2 separate regions of the Homo sapiens genome follow, and region 1 is linked to region 2. A link means that fine-mapping ties the variant in region 2 to the expression of a gene that starts in the linked region. Tissue or cell type: whole blood. Region 2 holds a variant in brackets; the other region holds the start of a gene. All regions are shown on one strand. Distances are between the middles of the regions.

Evidence for each region. PIP is the estimated chance that this variant, and not a neighbour inherited with it, causes the effect.
Region 1: it holds the start of DHRS12, and the variant in region 2 is fine-mapped to the expression of DHRS12 in whole blood (Lepik 2017, PIP 0.95).

What each region holds. Positions count from the first base shown.
Region 1 is chr13:51,802,707-51,805,394 of GRCh38, reverse strand. DHRS12 (dehydrogenase/reductase 12) reads left to right here and starts at 1,232. Exons shown (of 9, transcript NM_001377533.1): 1 at 1,232-1,341. LOC107984561 (a long non-coding RNA gene) reads right to left here and starts at 1,559. Exons shown (of 2, transcript XR_007063805.1): 1 at 594-1,559. RefSeq lists an enhancer at 352-481 and a silencer at 1,032-1,671.
Region 2 is chr13:51,887,487-51,890,174 of GRCh38, reverse strand. It overlaps a transcript of TMEM272 not described here. Among named protein-coding and RNA genes, the nearest start is that of CCDC70, 27 kb to the right of the region's middle. The variant C/T (reference allele first, on the strand shown) is at 1,372.

The DNA of each region.
Region 1 (2,688 bases), 85 kb after region 2:
TTCCTGAGGTGTTCAGAGAGATTCAGAGCAGATTGACACCTTTTCCATCACTGACACAAAGAGGAGGGTATAAAAAACAGTATGTAGCCCTGGGGATCTAAAATATTTTCCCAGCCAAATCGGACAGGCATTGAAAGTCACACAGGCTGGGGTGGTTTTACAAAATGCCACTTGTTTAAATTTCCTTTCATCACTCTGTCAGGAATAACAGCAACGTAGTGGAGCCTCAGAGTCCTGTTGAGAGGGGCGAGCTGTTCCGGGGAAATTTATTTCAAAAGTTATTCTGAAGTAAAAACTTGCCCACTGTGGAGTGAGGTTGGACAGTGATCCTATATCCTAGGTAATGAGGCTATTAAAGCAGCTGGTCTCTTCAGCTTATGTAAGTGGGGCCCAGTCTCTGGGCGACTTGGGTAAACCGGTATAGAATTTAACAGGGTGACTAGGAGTGACAGCAGCAGTAAGACCCCCATTTCTAATGTGGCGTTAGGGCTGGAGGTTAGATGTGGACAGGGGTGTCTGAGTCCTACATAATGGGGCTGGATGACTAGTCTGAGATCTGGGTTCACGCAGCAACCACACTCTTTTTTACTCACACTGTTCATCTGGGCTTGGGTGGAAAGAGGCTGATGAGGATTTGGGGGAAATCAAGGGGCTCTCCCTGGCATTGCATGAAGTCGCAGAACCAGTGGCAAAAGTCCAACTTTGGAGACAATTACTTCTCGGGTGGGAGCCCCAGCCCTGCCTCTTGCCTGCGATGTCGCCAATCTGACTGCGCTTGCTGGAGACGGGAAATGTGGCACGGCACTGCATCCCCCAACACGTGTAGAAACTTAGAGAATGCCAGTTATTAAAATAACCCTTATGATAACACCAATTCGATGCAGAAGTCTTTTAAATATCATAAGCCTCGTCGTTTTATTCCACATGGTTTTCTAGGTAACCAAATTCTAGGAGGTGCGTTGCAGGGCCATCTTCGCATCCCGGCCATGCCCAGCAGGACGGTGTTCTCTAAACGGCGCTGATGCCCGATTTCGACCCCGAGGAGACTGCGGACCTCGACTGCGGCCCCCACCAGGGCCGGTCCGCCCTCACTCCACCCTCTGAGGCTGGGGCGGAGTCGACCGGCCGGCCCCGAGACCCCTTGCCTTACCGGTGGAGCAAGGAACCGGAAGCCGCGGCTCTTACATAACCGGGATGATGTCAGGGCGGGCGACTCCCGGGGGGCGGGACCAGGGCGGAGGCCGCGCCGGGAGCGCGGTGGGGCTAGGCGTGGGGCGCTCCCGGCATGTCCCTGTACCGCAGCGTCGTGTGGTTCGCCAAGGGGCTGCGCGAGTACACCAAGTAAGGCGGCGCGGCGGGGCGCGGGGCCCCGGGCTGTCACGTGGCCCGCCTCGGCGCGGGCGAGCAGGGTTGGCGGGGACGCGCCCGCGGCTCCTTCGCCCTCTCGCTGGGCCGACTAAGCGTGTCCAGAACGACGGGTGCGCCCGCCGTCTAGCGACCCACGGCTGGGCGTGGGGCAGTCGCCAGACTCCAGCCGCTCAATGCCCGCGACCGAGACTGGCGCCCGAGGGGCGGGGCTGTGGCGCGCCCAAGCCCAGGGCCGTCCCACTGACGTCAGGCGGCCCCGGCGCCAAGGAGCCTCTTGGGCGGCACCTCGGCGCCCCGCTGGGTGTGCTCGTGGAAGTGTCTTCGTGGTGCTGCTGGCGGCGTCAGATAGGGCTGGATCTAAATCGCTAGCTAAGGCTCTGTCCTAGTGCCTTTGGGTGTGTTTCCTTTAAAAAGATGCAGCACCTGGACTGCGACCTTTGGCTCCAGCTGGAACTTTCCAGCCAGTGTGTGCTTCTGGGGAACGGTGCGTGGTGGTTTCGTCGCCCCGTGACCACGCTCAGTGTGCCCTAGTTGGCTCTCCACCTCATTGTGGTTTTAAGAGGTGACAGGTTCCTGTGACGGAGGAGAGATGGAGGTTTTCTCTTAGAATTGATTAGGCTAACCGCTGGTTCTCAACCCTGTCTGCACATCAGAATCACTGGGCGAGAATTAAAAGTACCCAGTTTTCAGGCCCCATCCCTACAGATTCTGATTTAGTGGATCTGCACAGGGGCCTGGACTGGCATTTCATCCAAATGCCCCAGGTGATTCTCACCTCTGAGAGGCTTCTCCCTGCACTGGGGCTTTATCAGTTCCCACGGCAACCTGGCCAGCACTCCTAGGGGAGGTAGGAGTTGCAACTCCCTGCTCTTCACCCCACATCGTTTTGGAGAAGGTTCAGCTCTGTCTCAGGAGCCCCTGCTGCAGAGAATGGTGGGGAGTGTAGTCGTGAGCCCTGTCCCACAGTTTTTAGGGGAATACAGTGGCAGCCTCTTTCTTTCAAAGGGGTGTCCTCTGGCAATGACCATTAATTGCTGGATCTTTCCACATTACACAGCATGAAAGCTTAAGTCAGTTTCCAACCAGGGGTGGGCCCCAAGGAAAGCAGACTGTAAAAATTTCTCCCAGGACTCTTTCGCTCTGATTTCCCCACCTTGAGGGAAGGTAGAAGTGAGGCCAAGGGGCCCAATCCACCACAGATTGGTGGGGGAAGGGAGGGGAGGGGAAGGCAGTTGGCAAAGTTAGATGGGTTTTCCTGCTGTTGTGGATTTAGTGAATAGGAGAGAAAAACAACAACCTTGTTTTGACTTCAGTGTGAGA
Region 2 (2,688 bases):
GTTTCCATTGAACAACTGTAGCTCCCTCCGTATTTAGAGTGCTCAAAGATGAGGACTGCATCCTTGCATTTGTAGCTCACTCTGAGCTGAGGTCCCTCACAGCCACCACCAGTGTTGCTCAGCACTCCCAGGCACTTGGACTGCGCCCCATGGAGGAGTCTGGGAAGCCCCTCCATGCACCCCGTTTTAATTGTTCCTATCCTCTTGGTCTGCCACAAGAAAATACCACAGATTGGCTGGGCATGGTGGCTCACACCTGTAATCCCAGCACTTTGGGGGGCCGAGGTGGGCGGATCACCTGAGGTCAGAAGTTCAAGATGAGCCCGACCAACATGGAGAAACCTTGTCTCTACTAAAAATACAAAATTAGTCGGGCGTGGTGGCGCATGCCTGTAATCTCAGCTACTCGGGTGGCTGAGGCGGGAGAATCACTTGAACCCAGGAGGCGGAGGTTAAGGTGAGCCGGGATCGCACCATTGCACTTTAGCCTGGGCAACAAGAGCAAAACTCCATCTCAAAAAAACAAACAAAACCCCCCCACACACACACAAAAAAACAAATCGGATTGGGTGGTTCAAACAACAGGAAGTTATTTTCTCACAGTTCTAGAAGCTGAAAGTCCAAGATCAAGGTGCCGGCAGGGCTGGTTTCTCCTGAGGCCTCTCTCCTTGGCTTGCAGATGGCCACTTTCTCATCATGTCTTCACAGGGCCTTTTTCTCTGTGCATGCATCCCTGGTGTCTCCTCCTCTTCTTGTAAGGCTACAGTCCTGTTGGTTCAGGGTCTCACCCTTATGACCTCATTTACCCTTAATTACCTCTTTAAAGGCCCTATCTCCAAATATAGTCACTTTAGAGGATAGGGCTTCAACATATGAATTTTAGAAGGACACAATTCATTCCATAACAGAAGGGATATGAGGAAAAGTGTGAATACTTTTAGAAAAGCCTTTTAGAAAAGCAATTTGGCAATATCTATTAAAATTGTTAAAATAAAAAAGATACTCTTCTACCCAGAAATTTATTGCTAAGAAATTATCTCACAGCTAGAAAACCACCAGTAATAACGAAAATGTGTTCAAGGGTGTTTATCACAGGGTTGTTATTGTGGCAAACAGTTACACCTGGACACAATGTAGATACCCATCAGTGGGAAAGTGGTTAAAAAAATCATGATGAAATACACATCACCAGAGAGGCTCTGTGGCCATTAAAAAGAATTAATTAGAACTGGCCGGGCAGAGTGGCTCATACCTGTAATCCCAGCACTTTGGGAGGCTGAGCTGGGTGGATCACGAGGTCAGGCGTTTGAGACTAGCCTGGCCAACATAGTGAAACCCCATCTCTACTAAAAATACAAAAAATTAGCCAGG[C/T]GTGGTGGCAGGTGCCTGTAATCCCAACTACTTGGGAGGCTGAGGCAGGAGAATCGCTTGAACCTGGAAGGCAGAGGTTGCAGTGAGCTGAGATCGAGCCACTGCACTCCAGTCTGGGCGACAGTGTGAGACTCCATCTCAAAAAAAAAAAAAAAAAAAAAAAAGAAAAAGAAAAAAGAAAAAGGATTAATTAAAACTGTACCAATTTACTTGGAGTGATTCCTATAAAATGCTGTCATGTGAGAAAAGCAAGATGCATGAAGTGTGCATAGGGTGACTATAAAGTGACTGTAAATGATAAGGCAAATCTTATATGCATCTATATTGGTATATAATCACAAAGGTTGTTAACACGGGTAGCCTGGAAGGTGCTTATGGAGGGGACTGATGTGACAGGGAGGTTACAGAGGTGGGATCCCTGAAAGAGGAAATAAATTTTTATAAGATTGAGTCAAGTAGGCTGGGCGCAGTGGTTCACGCCTGTAATCACAGCACTTTGGGAGTCCGAGGTGAACGGATCACCTGAGGTCAGGAGTTCAAGACCAGCTTGGTCAACATGGTGAAACACCGTCACTACTAAAAATACAAAAATTAGGTAGGTGTGGTGGTGGGTGCCTGTAATCCCAGCTACTTGGGAGGCTGAGGCAGGAGAATTGCTTGAACCTGGGAGGCGGAGTTTGCAGTGAGCTGAGATTACGCCACTGCACTCCAGCCTGGGCAACAAAGAGCGAAACTCCGTCTCAAAAAAAAAAAAAAAGATTGTGTCAAGTGAAATTACAATATGTATAATGCAATCACACTTTACCATTTATATGAAGTTATATAGGTGTGTATATGTTTAAAGATGCTAATGAAATGAAATAAACTCATGTCTGTCCCAGAAAACTAGAGATGACTGGGCATTGGGAGGTAGGCATAAGGCAGAGCAGGAGGCAGATGAACTAGAAATGGCCCAACTTGCCTTTACTCTCAGCAGCCCCTTGTTCCCCAGTGGGCCTGAAATCTTCCAGAATGGGAGGAGAAGGAAGTGAAGGATTGAGAAGAGTTGGCAGAGTCTTCAAGGATTTACTGTGCCAGAAGGCTCACAATTTTCCTCATGCTGTGGTCTGGTCGTGGAAACAAATACCTCTAATTCCCTTTAAGTAGGCCAGAAAATGAGCCACATAAGGATATGCATTACTGGATTAGTGTGGAGGAGCAAGCTCAAAGCCAAGGACTTTCACAGCAGAAACATTCATTGTCTGGGCATGTCCTGTCTGTCCTGGGCAGTCTGTCAGCAAATAAAGCAGGTGTATAGAAAGATGGTCTTCATTTTCG